4 linked regions of the Homo sapiens genome follow. The protein of the gene in region 2 purifies or fractionates together with the protein of the main gene of each other region. This does not show direct contact. Each region holds a gene or a part of one and is shown on either strand. Other genes may lie near its edges.

The links. The genes of interacting proteins can lie anywhere in the genome.
Region 1: the proteins of TPST1 (region 2) and TMEM59 purify together in Homo sapiens (co-immunoprecipitation; one large-scale study listed by IntAct). This does not show direct contact.
Region 3: the proteins of TPST1 (region 2) and TRDN purify together in Homo sapiens (co-immunoprecipitation; one large-scale study listed by IntAct). This does not show direct contact.
Region 4: the proteins of TPST1 (region 2) and MLYCD purify together in Homo sapiens (co-immunoprecipitation; one large-scale study listed by IntAct). This does not show direct contact.

Annotation. Positions count from the first base shown.
Region 1 is NC_000001.11:54,039,705-54,043,204, forward strand, and holds part of TMEM59 (transmembrane protein 59 isoform 2 precursor), read right to left. Parts: intron 2,102-3,500; coding exon 2,020-2,101; intron 1,137-2,019; coding exon of another isoform or gene 1,134-1,136; coding exon 1,052-1,133; intron 1-1,051.
Region 2 is NC_000007.14:66,358,036-66,361,100, reverse strand, and holds the end of TPST1 (protein-tyrosine sulfotransferase 1), read right to left. Parts: intron 2,303-3,065; exon of another isoform or gene 1,207-2,302; 3' UTR 658-1,206; downstream 1-657. UniProt on the Homo sapiens protein: Catalyzes the O-sulfation of tyrosine residues within acidic motifs of polypeptides, using 3'-phosphoadenylyl sulfate (PAPS) as cosubstrate.
Region 3 is NC_000006.12:123,504,451-123,507,950, forward strand, and holds part of TRDN (triadin), read right to left. Parts: intron 1-3,500. UniProt on the Homo sapiens protein: Contributes to the regulation of lumenal Ca2+ release via the sarcoplasmic reticulum calcium release channels RYR1 and RYR2, a key step in triggering skeletal and heart muscle contraction.
Region 4 is NC_000016.10:83,909,115-83,912,614, forward strand, and holds part of MLYCD (malonyl-CoA decarboxylase, mitochondrial), read left to right. Parts: intron 1-3,103; coding exon 3,104-3,253; intron 3,254-3,500. UniProt on the Homo sapiens protein: Catalyzes the conversion of malonyl-CoA to acetyl-CoA.

The DNA.
Region 1 (3,500 bases), on a different chromosome or scaffold from region 2:
CACTATAAAGCAGAAACTTGTTTACCACTCACTGAAATGCTTGACCTGGTATCTGACACCGAGTAGGTGATAGTCAATAAGTGGTATGGCCCACTATCTTTCTCTTTTTCCTTTTTTTGTTGGGGGTGGGGAGGAGTAAAATGTGGGGGAGGGACCATATCTGAACTCCTTGGAGAAGAGGAAACATGCACACTTTCATAAAACCTGCCTCTCACCCTCATAAGGCTTGATATTTTTTCCTAGGAGGGCATATGGTACCCCTACTCTCACTTGCCCACTTTACCATTACCCTTAAAAACTCTTGGCATAGAGCTGATATTCCTTAGTATAGAATACAAAGCCCTTCTTAATCTAGAGTCTTTATCCAGCTCTTCTAGCGTCAAATCTGGCCATGCAGATAAAAACAAAAACAAAAATCTGATCCCTAAACCATTCAAACATACTTATTTTATTTATTTTATTTTTTGAGACAGAGTCTCACTCTGTTACCTAGGCTGGAGTGCTGTGGCGTGATCTCAGCTCACTGCAACCTCTGCCTTCCAGGTTCAAACGATTCTCCTGCCTCATCCTCCTAAGTAGCTGGGATTACAGGCATGCACCACCACGCCCGGCTAATTTTTGTATTTTCAGTAGAGATGGGGTGTCGCCATGTTGGCCAGGCTGGTCTCGAACTCCTGACCTCAGGCGATCCACCCGCCTTGGCCTCCTAAAGTGCTGGGATTACAGGCATGAGCCACTGTGCCCGGCCTCAGACATATGTTAAATTAAAGCTTAATTTAAATGTGTGGAGAAGCACATTCAACATAAATCAAGAGATTCTAACAAGAAAAATGCTCTTGTACTGTGAAAAAAACTACCTGCCTGGGTTTTATTCAAGTAGTATGCCTACAACCTTTTAAACAAACTAAAATATCTAATGTACAACTTTGGAAAGGAACAAGTAAAAAGGTTTACTTTTGAGGTGCTAATTTTAAAATAATAAAAAGTAATATATCTCTCTGATACAAGCCAGATTTTATCTGTTATACACATAATAAAGAGGAATACATACAGAGAGAGGCATCTTAAAAAGCCATCACTTTCTCCATCTTCAAGAAAATTCCTGTGCGCTTGTGAATTTCTCATTTGCAGATCTGCTGAAATAGTAAGTATGAGTTTATTATATCCTATATTCCAAAAGCTAGTCTCACATGACTACTTCTAGATATATACACTTTACAGATATCCAATTGTTTTTGTTTGTGTCATCTGATACATTTTATAATGTGTACCAGTTTCTCTAGCACATCAAAACCAAATGAATATTCTATCACATTATGAGTTTCCTGTTTTATTTTCAAATTCTTATTGACATTGATGCTTTCTGCTTAATTACATGTGAGCTTGGATTTGGTTTATTCTAATCTAATTAAAGTTAAAGATGGTCTTATGTTATGTGCTATCATTATCTACCCACTCCCACCCACCAAAATAATTAGAAGGCTAATTAAATCAGTATCTAAAATAAGGTATGAGGAAATTTCACAAGGTGAGTTCTGCTTTAGCTTGATGTTTTATGTTCTTATAAGTCAAAATTCACTTCTAACATGGAAATAAAAATAGAATGGGGACTCTCACTTTTGGCATTTTTCATTATTTGATCAATTTATTGGGAAATACCAGAATATTTGATTAGTTCATGCTCAAAACATCCTTTGAAGCAAACTAAATGTTTTTAGAATAGTGATTTTCAAAGTGTGGCCCCCAGGCCAGCAGCATCAGCAAAATCTGGAACTTGTGAGAAATACAAATTCTCAGATCTTCTCCCAGACCTAGTAAATTAGAAACTCTGGAGGTAGGGCCCAGCAATCTGTGTTTGAACAAGCTCTCCAAACTGTAATACACATGAAAGTTTGAGAACCACTGTTTTAGAAATTATCTGTTTATGTTCCATCAGTGTAAAAACAAACATGACCAACTCTACTACAACCAGATTTGACTGCTAATGTTTTTATCTAAGCTACTTAAAATAAAACTTACAGGACATTTTGCTTAGAGATGATTCTCTCAAATTTGTAGGCTCCTGCTCCAAATGTGGTGCGTACTGGATTTCTGGCTTAGACTAAAATAATAATGAAAGCAATTAAGTCATTTGTACTTCTTTAGCTTTTTTCAGTAACAAGTTCTAAAACAAATCATCTCTTTAAACATTTAAATTGAGAAAAAGTAGCAGAAATACTGTATAAAAAATAAAACACATTAACCACAATATATTTTAATTGCACTTCCTAAACATCAGAGCCAGTGCCTTGCAAAGAAACAGATTTCTGGCAGATTTATGTTAGTTTAACTTCCTGACAACGTTTTGTTTTGTTTTTTTTTTTTTTTAAAGGGAGAGAGGGACAAATCATGACATACTACATTAAATACTATACCTTGCAGAAATGAGTTCTAATTCTAGTTGATCAGGAATAATTTATCAGACTGCCAAAACTTTTGGCTAAATACACATTATCTCTATTTATTCTCATATGAAACATTATATTCTTCCCTAAGTATGAGGAATCCATAAATTACAGCCAAACACTCCATACTTTTTACATCTTGTGTATAGTTCTGATCCTCTAGAATGGGGGTTTCTGCATCCCAGTTATGCTCAAATTCACACAGACTTTAGAGAGACACAGAGCTAATCTCCTATCTAATGAGGAATGAATGAGGGCTTCACTCTGAGAGTCAACTTATGCCTTGAGGTAAGTAGCTTTAGGACCTAGAACTTGTTCATGAATTTAAAGAGAAAATTCCTGTGTTTTACTTATTACCAAATTAAGTAGAGGGGACCCAAGGTTCAGGGGAGTGCTAAAAATCACATACCAGCCATACATTAAGCCACTTACTTAGCTACAGTACTTAAAAGGTTTACTTTATTACCTGAGAGGAAGACAGTGCCACAACATAAACTCTGTTGACTGGTAAATTTGAGGAATTCAACTACTGAATTAAAAGCATGGTAGGGTAGTATATGGGCCTTGGTGCTAAAGTGCCCTGGGTTTGAAGCTTAATTCTGTTACTTATTGGCCGTGAAACTGCAACAAGTTACTCTCACCTTCCTCATAATAAAACAGGAATAATACAACCTCATAAAGTTGTTTGAAGATGTGAGAGAATATATCTAGCACAATATAACCTCCAGGGAATAACAGTTATTATCATGTGGTAAACGATGAGATAGGAGACATTACTTCTCTAGGCAAAATACTTCTTCAACAAGTTCTCTTATTAGAGTCATGAGTAAAAGCACTGTAAAAAACTAAAAATTATGTCATATTGCTTTTATCTGATATCCATATGTAATCATATATGGCCACTATTTATGTTCGAAGTATATTAATTATTGTCTCTCATATTTAAAAATTTCATTTTATCAATTTAACCACCATAAAATTTAAAAGACTCAAGAGTTCTGGTTACATAAAAACTAATGGGCTTTAGATTAGGCTTCTAACGGGCAAAGGGAAGGG
Region 2 (3,065 bases):
GGTAGGATCAAAGATCTTGGATGCGAATGGAAAGAGGGAGGAAAAGGGTGAAATCAAGTGTGACTCTTCAGTTTCTGGCTCAAGTGACAGTAGAAAATACTGCAGTTACTGATATGGATATGACCTAAATGGATAGGTACAAGTTTTGGGGCAGAGATGGGATAACATGTTATATACCCTTTTCATGGCTGGCACATATGTGAACACACTCAATATGGGAATTATTACTACTATCTGGACATCCTGGGTTTCATAACAAAGGCTTCTAGAAAACAAGTGGAAATAGTAACTTCCATGTCCTTAAATACAGTCTGCAAGCATGAAATAGAACAGGATTCTCAAAGTGGATGGCAATAGGTTCTCTCTTGAAATAAAAAGAAAACTTCACTACAAAATGATAATGCAGGCCAAGCACCGTGGCTCACACCTGTAATTTTAGTACTTTGGGAGGCTGAGGCAGAAGGATCGTTTGAGCCCAGGCTGGGGAATGTAGCGAGACCCTGCCTCTACCCACCACCCCCCTCCAAAAAAAGGTGATGGCTCCAGGGGAGTATCTACAATACAGCCAACCAAGGAAACTTTGGTTTATCACATCAGCATCTGATAAGGTCTGTGCTTCTCTGAAATCACATTAATGAAAACATGTAACTACCAGAATGCTTCACATTGAAAGCTTTTATTTTGAAAAATAAAATACAAAAGTCATTAGGTTGTAAATGTATAATGGTAATTTCCCAACTTCTCAGAAACAATACAATGAATTAAATAATTAGGATATTTAATATTATTCACATCAATACACTTAAACAGGCACACGTGTTCTACAAAACATTAGAACATGTACAGACAACCTATTTCAAAAGGAGACTGCCCAAGTCTGCTTACAGGATCCCATTTTTAAACCCTCTCCTTGAAAACAAACGTCATAATGTAAGAAAAGAGAACAAGAGGAGTTTTAACAGGAAACACATGTTCCTTCTGGGCTCCTTACTGCAGGGCTGTGCATGAAATCGGGATCAAGAGCTCTTTGCTCAGGAGGCAGATCCCTCACGAGGCCCAAAGCTGTGCGGACACCTCCATCCTCTCAGTGGGAGGAAACTGGCAAATGCACAGGCGGCGCAGCCAAGGTGCAGACGCTCCACCAAGCTTGGCAGGGGACAGCCAATCCTAGGAATTTCCCTTCTGCTGAAAAGGCAGCAATCTTTCCTAGGGCGAACAAACAGAATGTGGTTACAGGTGTGGAGTCCCGGTGTGTTCTCCCTGTGTCTTCGTCTCTTCCTTCCCAGCTACAGGCCTAGACAAGCCAGGCGGTTGGGGAGGTTCCTGCAGATCAGGGGCCAGGAGGATGGATGTTGAGAACAGCTGCCTCAGGAAGACTGCCTGGGAGGCACACACACCCTCACTCTGGTGCTTTCAGATGCATGCAAGTAGCTGCTGGGTGCAAAGCAAGCAGATGGCCAAAACCAGGGCTGCTCCTGCCCATTTCTAAATAACTGACTGTCATCTGCTATTGTTGCTACTGTGGGGGCACTGTCAGGGGCACCAGATGTCCAGGGGTCAGCACCATGATTCCTCGTGTGAAGAAATGGGTCCTAAGGTTCTTAAAGTGTCCAGGGGTCAAGACCCTGATTCCTCCTTATGTGAAGAAATGGGTCCTAAGGTTCTTCAAGTGTCCAGGGGGCAGCACCCTGATTCCTCCTCATGTGAAGAAATGGGTCCTAAGGTTCTTTAAGTGTCCAGGGGGCAGCACCCTGATTCCTCATGTGAAGAAATGGGTCCTAAGGTTCTTTAAGTGTCCAGGGGGCAGCACCCTGATTCCTCCTCATGTGAAGAAATGGGTCCTAAGGTTAAGTGTCCAGGGGTCAAGACCCTGATTCCTCCTCATGTGAAGAAATGGGTCCTAAGGTTCTTTAAGTGTCCCAGGGGTCAGCACCCTGATTCCTCCTCATGTGAAGAAATGGGTCCTAAGGTTCTTTAAGTGTCCAGGGGTCAGCACCCTGATTCCTCCTCACGTGAAGAAATGGATCCTAAGGTTCTTTAAAGGAAGCTCCAGAGAACACAGATACTGTTATTGAAATGCCAAAGGGACCCAAAAGATAAGAAAGATAGTATCCATCCTAAGGGCTTTGCTGTGTCCCCAGTTCTCCTGAGTCCTCCTCAGCACAGGTTGGCCCCTCCCAACCTCCACACACAAGCCAGGGTGAAATGCTGCAGAGGCAACTGCTGATGCGGTCCATCCTACAACACGCTGGTAAAGAAATGAGGCCTTGTGTGTGTTTGGTGGGGCGGGCAGGGAGATTACCTATGAAGTTTGAAAGCATTTTGTATAAACAAAATTAGCCAAGGCCTGATAACTGCTGTTAAATATGCAGACCCACAGGGCATAAGACTAACATTCAGCATTTGCTCCTCAGCAAAAAGGAAACCTGAATCCTAGAACCTGTCAATATTAGCAGCTTGCTGCCATCTGGGATTTTGACATGACGGACCAGCGTCCATGTGCTTCTTATGTCTATAATCCATCAACGCACCGCAAGTCACATTCAACCTGTTTTCTCACTAGCAAAACAGGAATACTACCAGCTTGCCAGAGTGGTTTGAGAACTGAATACAATTTTATATATAGATGTATATATAATTTAGCGTATCTGTTATATATATATCATCTTATATATATGCAAATAAAATCCTTGGTATTTTATGCCTGGTATGGAGTATGCACAATACATCATTATATAAAGTAAAAATAAAAACATTATATAAAAAAAAAAAACAAAGGTCAGCAAGTAAACTATGAGAAAAAATCACTATCAATATCAGATTTTATTTTTATTTATTTATTTATTTATTTTTGAGACGAAGTCTCGCTCTGTCACCCAGGCTAGAGTGCAGTGCTGCAATCTCGGCTCACTGCAACCTCTCTGCCTCCTGGCTTCAAGCAATTCTCTTCCTTCAGCCTCCCGAGTAGCTGGGACTATAAGTGCCCACCACCACGCCCAGCCAATTTTTTTTTTTTGAGACGAAGTCTCTCTCTTGTCACCCAGGCTGGAGTGCAATGGCACGAT
Region 3 (3,500 bases), on a different chromosome or scaffold from region 2:
AACAATGAAATCCATTAGAAGATAACTGAAAGACCTATAGTCTAATGATTTGGCCTTAGAAAAACTGAAAGTGAAGAAATTCAGATATTGGCTCCTGTTTATCTTAAGTCAGCGATAATTCTACTAGTTTTTAAAGCCCTTAAACATATCATGGGAAATTCAAAGGGCTATAAATAAAAATATATATGAATAGATATATAAATTAGAACATATATATATTACACACATATATTCTTAATTTGATATTATCCGTATTTTGGAAGAGGGAACTGTGATGCAAATAACTAGTCTGTGGATCATTCAAGCATCTTTTAAAAAGCAGTAATAATGTAGCACATAATTTGTGGAAAATTGTTCATAATAGATGCTGAATATTGGACATTCCTTTTTGTATGTGACTACACATAACCACTATACACCACAGCAACTCTACTGCAATGTTGGAATCCTCTATGTCATTTGCTAATGCACTGTGTAGCCTTTATTGTCACTCATGTTAAAGAATTTGATGAAGGCCGGGCATGGCGGCTCATGCCTGTAATCCCAGCACTTTGGGAGACCAAGGCGGGCGGGTCATGAGGTCAGCAGATCAAGACCATCCTGGCTAACAGGGTGAAACCCCATCTCTACTAAAAATGCAAAAATTAGCTGGGCGTGGTGGTGCATGCCTGTAATCCCAGCTACTCAGGAGGCTGAGGCAGGAGAATCATTTGAACCAGGGAAGCGGAGGTTGCAGTGAGCCGAGATTGCGCCATTGCACCACAACTTGGGCAACAAGAGCAAAACTCTGTCTCAAAAAAAAAAAAAAAAAAAAAAAAAAGAATTTAATGAAAAAATGTAATCAAGTTTCTTGACTTTGGTACCCTAAATGATGATTTCAGGCTAAGCCAAGATAATATCAGAAGGTCCCATTGAGAGAATGAAAATGATAATGCCAGATGCTGGTTAGCTTGCAAACCAAAAATCATCTGTGGTATCGCACTTAATTGACTACGCCAGCACTTCCCAAAACACTGTTTCTCAGATACTTCAGATATTTACAGGAAGATGTTGATACTGTATTAGGTATTGGAGAATATTCTCATGGCCAAATTCATTTGGCAACAATAAGCTAACCTGGTCATTTAGCTTGGACTTTCTCAAAGCTGAAGTGTATTGAGAATTTTTAAGAAGGGGAATTATGATACACACATTATTCAATATTGTTTAATCATAAAATTCTCATACAAATATTACTCAATTACTCTATAAACTTTTTTTTTTTTTTGAGATGAAGTCTTGCTTTGTCATCCAGGCTGTAGTGCAGTGGCACGATCTCGGCTCACTGCAACCTCTGCCTCTCAGTTTCAAGGAATTCTCCTGCCTCAGCCTCCCAAGTAGCTGGGATTACACGCGCCTATCACCAAGCCCAGTTAATTTTGTATTGTTAGTAGAGATGGGGTTTCACATGTCCATAAACTTTCAACATCTTTGTGGCTTCTGTAACTACACTCAGGGGATTTTCTTCTTCCTATAAATCATTTCTAAACCTCCTTTGCTGGTTTCTGCTCTTTCCTGCAGTAAACTCATATGTTTCTGTGACTGAAACCAGCAGCTTTCTGCGGATGACTTTAAATTGAAATCATTCCAGAATTCCACACTGGAATGTTTATTAGTGTCTGTCTGGAAAGAAAGTTTCACTGGAGTGGTCAACAGCACCTCAATCTCATGCAACTCATTCACCTAAAAAACACTTCTAGAGAGTCTATGTTGACCTGGGCTCACAGCTAGTTGCTGGAGCTCTAAAAATCAGCATAATAATAAAACTACCTGAATAAATTTTAGCACAGCAAAATTAAAACCGTGCAATATCTGGCTTCCTCCTATCTCCCATGTTACAGCACTTTTCCAAAAATTTATTCCTCTACTGGACTGCTTTCTTTCTTTTGAATATTTTATGTATTTTTCCATGTGTCAACTGTTGTCAGACTGCATTCTCTATATTTTCTATATTTTTCCACATATTTAAATTTCTTTATTTCTTTTTTATTTATTTTTGTCTTTTTGTTTTTTTGTTTAGATAGACTCTTGGCTCTGTTGCCAGGCTGGAGTGCAATGGTGCAATCTTGGCTCACTGCAACCTCTGCCTCCCGGGTTCAAGCAATTCTCCTGCATCAGCCTCCCGAGTAGCTGGGATTTCAGGTGTGCACCACCAACATCAGCTAATTTTTGTATTTTTAGTAGAGATGGGGTTTCACCATGTTGGCCAGGCTGGTCTTGAACTCCTGACCTCAGGCGATCCACCCGCCTCGGCCTCCCAAAGTGCTGGGATTAAATTTCTTCATGGTCAATTCACATGCAAAAAAATGGCTCTCCCATTTGAATTAATAATGTCTTCCCATGAGCTTCCATTTTTCTGAATTTTTATTAAATTATACATTTTATTCTTTATTATATATCTTGAAATATAGATAGTTTGATCTATCTGTCTTCCCTACCAGACAGACAGTGCTTAGGGGCAGGAATTCTATTATTATTTTTGTATCACCATAGTGTCTAGCACAATGCTTCTTTCAGAGAAAACAGAGGATAAATGTATACTGGATTAGCAATTTTGATGGAGAGAGTAAATATTCCACTATACTCAGATCATATGTATAATATAGTGATATAGAGACTGCATTATGTAAATATGTGTTTAGAAATAAACTTGTCTAAACCTGTTAAACTTGCCAACTTTTTTTTTTGTTTATACTAATTTGTATGAAATTGTTATATTTGCTTACTCTAAATGACAGCTATCTACTCCTTGTAAGTTACAGTTGATTTAACCTTAACTTTATAGTATGGAACTATAGATGTGTGAAATTCAGATTTCTTTTTAATGCCATTATAATTTATAAGTGGGCAATGATTATTTTCTAAGAGGTAGAACCACATATATAGCCAACTCATTATAATCATTGACTTTAAGTATAAAAATAATAAAATATTTTCTACTATTTTAGACACTCTTCAATCACATTCACTCTGGAAATAGATAACTTTGCCTCATAGTAGAAAAAAATGAGTGACAACTAAACAATGATGTGGCTATAATAAAGAAAATATCATGAAACTAAAGCAACACCCAACTTCTATTTACTTTTGAGTACACATTCTTCAATTTTGTGCCAAAATATTTTTCCTGATTTTTCCCTAAAATAATTTAAGTGACGAAATTTATTAAGGAATGAAAAAAACAAAAAGTATTGCCATGGGTATTCAAATCACCCAGTTTTATTTAGGAAGGCATTTTATTCATGACTTTTGTCAAATGGAAAACAAAATGGCCTAATCAAAAAAAATGACATCAGCATATTTGATTCAATCTTGGAATTAGCGTGATCCATTAGCTACTGCATCAGATTCAGAATGTCTGATGCCAAAGTATTAAATAGAATAGTATCCCTCAAGAAACATACTACACATGTTGGGAGTTAGAAAATAACAAATTTTCTCTCTCATTCCATAAAGAACTG
Region 4 (3,500 bases), on a different chromosome or scaffold from region 2:
TCACACTCCGATGCCCTCTTGGTGGGACTAGGGGCCATTCTGACTTCTCTGAGGGCAATTTGGCAACATGGATGAAAATTCAGAATGTGCATTCCTTCTGGCCTAACAATTCCACTCCTAGGAACTTCTCCTGGGGAGATGCTCAGCCCTGAGAGTCAGATGGCTATTCCTGCAGCATTGCTGACAGTTCAAAAGGGTGGGGATGATAACCTAGGGCCCATCAGGAGAGAATGGGCTCCAGGAGGGCGCTGTAGACACATGGCGCGGCCTCGTGTACATCAGATATCTGTGCATGTATTTAAATATTGTTGTAGGTTTATATGGAAAACCAGCCTTGACTTACTCTTGAGTAGAAGTTCAGGTTTATAGAGTAGCATGGGTATGGTGTGGTCTTATGAATAATATTAATAATATCTGTTGAGTAGTGCTCTGTGCCTGTCAGTCTGTGAAGCACATTTTGTGTGTTATTGCCCTGAGCACCCTGTGATTTAGGTGGTGGTGTTGTGTTTTTTTTTTTTTTTTTTGAAGCGGAGTTTCGCTCTTCTTGCGCAGGCTAGAGTGCAATGGTGCTGTCTCGGCTCACTGCAACCTCCAACTCCCGGGTACAAGCAATTCTCCTGCCTCAGCCTCCCGAGTAGCTGGGGATTACAGGCATGTGCCACCATGCCCAGCTAATTTTTTTTTTTTTTTGTATTTTTAGCAGAGATGGGATTTCACCATGTTGGCCAGGCTGGTCTCGAACTCCCGACCTCAGGTGATCTGCCCGCCGCGGCTTCCCAAAGTGCTGGGACTATAAAGGCGTGAGCCACCGTGCCCGGCTGATATAGGTATTATTATGAGAAAACCGAGGCTTGAGGGAACGTCCGCAACTTACCCATGATCATCGAGCAAGTAAGGGCGGAACTGGAATTCAGACCCAGCTCGCATCCTGACTCTAAGGGCACGTGAGAATGTGCGTGGGTACGCAGTCCTGTGTGCATTTGTGTGCGTACCGAGAGCCTCTGAGACAGGCCTGGAAAGGTGTTCATCAAAAGGGCAGCAGCAACAGTCATGGAGATTAGATTTTGGAGTAATTGGTTATTTTTTTTTATGCATGGTTTTTTTTTTTTGCCTCTTTTTGTTTTATTCACTTAGTTTTATCAATTTTTTGTCTCTTTGACATTATACATACCTCACTTGTATAACCGAAGAAAGTTTTGTTTTTATTTTGAAAACTTAAAAAAAAGATTGCTGGGATTTTTGCATAAGGAATCACAAGATAATTTGCAGACTTCTTAAAAAACAAAGGAGAGCCCGACGCAGTGACTCGCGCCCAGAATCCCAACACCCCGGGAGGCTGAGGAGGCAGCCGGATCACCTGAGGTCAGGAGTTCCAGACCAGCCTGGCCAACATGGTGAAACCCCGTCTCTACTAAAAATACAAAAATTAGCCGGGTGTGGTGGTGTGCACCTGTAGCCCCAGCTACTTGGGAGGCTGAGGCACAAATGAGAATCGCTTGCCACTAGGCAGAGGTTGCAGTGAGCCGAGGTCGTGCCACTGCACTCCAGCCTGGGCGACAGAGCAAGACTCCATCTCAAAAAAAAAAAAAAAAAGAAAGGAGATAAGCCTGGGAGTGATGTGAAGTGAGCTCCGTCCTATGAACGACAGAGCTCTTCCATAGAGCACGGTGCAGGACAGCGGGCCCCTCTCGGGCCTCGGAGGATATGTCCTTCATGTCATGAGCTCTCCCCCTTTCCTCACAGCAGCATTTCTTCACTTTGTTGGAGTCACAGACCCTGTTAAGAATCTGGAGGGAAAAATGCTGAGGATGTTTTCCTCAGGGCAGATATGCATAGACTCACACATTCCATACACAATTTCTTTCTTTTTTTCTTTTTTTTGAGACGGAGTCTCGCTCTGTGCCCAGGCTGGAGTGCAGTGGCATGATCTCGGCTCCCTGCAACCTCCGCCTCCCGGGTTCACACCATTCTCCTGCCTCAGCCTCCGTAGTAGCTGGGACTACAGGCACCTGCCACCATGCCCGGCTCATTTTTTTTGTATTTTTAGTAGAGACGGGGTTTCACCGTGTTAGCCAGGGTGGTCTCGATCTCCTGACCTCGTGATCTGCCCGCCTCGGCCTCCCAAAGTGCTGGGATTACAGGCGTGAGCCACCGCGCCCGGCCTCCATACAATTTCAGAACAATTTCAGAAAGTTCATGGACTGACTACGAGACCTCATCTATGCAGTCTGAGCTAAACGCTCCTACTTCCAGAATCGAAGGTCGCTGGTAGAAGTTAAAATAGTTTAAATGGGTTCTTCAAAAGTAAGCTGGTTTCCCTGCTTCAAAGCAAATGAAAAGGTAGCCCCCTGCTGTTCCACTGTTATCCAGTGAGCTTTGGAGTGTTAAGGATTATGCTTCGGAGTATAAGGGATTAGAAAACGCTGCCGTGAGAATGAGAGGCAATAAACTCAGACTTCAGCTAAGCGACTTCCCAGTCTAGCTCGTTTCTTAGAATGCCTCGCAGGGATGTCTGCAAATGTGTTACCATTTAGGAAAAACAGAAATGGCACAAAACCCAAAAGGTACATGAAAAAGTCAAACAAAGGTATATTTCCTAAAAGAAAATTATATAGGACTGCTTATAGCCTCTTGAGAAATTTGAAAAACCTAGGGTTCAGAGAAAAGGAGGAAAAACAATTCAGTGGTGGGAAACGTCAGTCCTTTAGGAGAAGCTGAAGGAACTGGAGCTGTTTGGTCTCAAGGATCCGTGTGTTATCGCTGAGTGTTGGCCGGAGAGTTTATGGAGCAAGTTTTTGTTTGCACAAAGGCCTAAAAGAGACAGAAAGGGGCATACATTGCTCTTCAACAAAGTTTGCATGAAAATTTCAAGAAACGATGCAGTGCTGAGGACCCCCAGGCACGCGGTGGAGTCGCCTCCTCCAGAGAGTTTTCAAAACAGAGCAGCTTTTAGGCTCTGTAGCCTGAACCCCAGCTGGGGAGCCGAGGTCTCTTCCAGCTCCTTCAGTGCTCTGAGAATTGTCTTCTCGTCCCAGCAACAGGCTTGCCTCGTGGGCTGCAGAGCGGCCAGGCCACCCTTAGAACCATCGTTGGTGTTTTCCAGGCAATCGTGAAGGAACATCCTCCATCAGAAACAGAAGAGAAGAACAAAATCACTGCTGCGATCTTTTATTCCATCAGCTTGACCCAGCAGGGACTCCAAGGGGTGGAGCTGGGAACATTCCTCATAAAGCGAGTCGTCAAGGAGTTGCAGGTAAGCGACACGCAGGGAGCCCCGGTCACGCTTGGCTTCCGTGTGGTCAGGTCAGCGAACCTCGTGGGGTGTCAGGTGCCATGAGGGACACAGATGAAGACAGGAGCTAAAGGGAGGGGCAGGGGGTAGAAAAGGTGCCAGAGACCCCTTGGCAACTCCTAGGAGCCATGAGTCTCCCAGAGAGATGAGAATGATGCTGAGAGAGGCCTCCAACCCAGCTGCCCAGTTGACTGCAAGACGCAGTTGT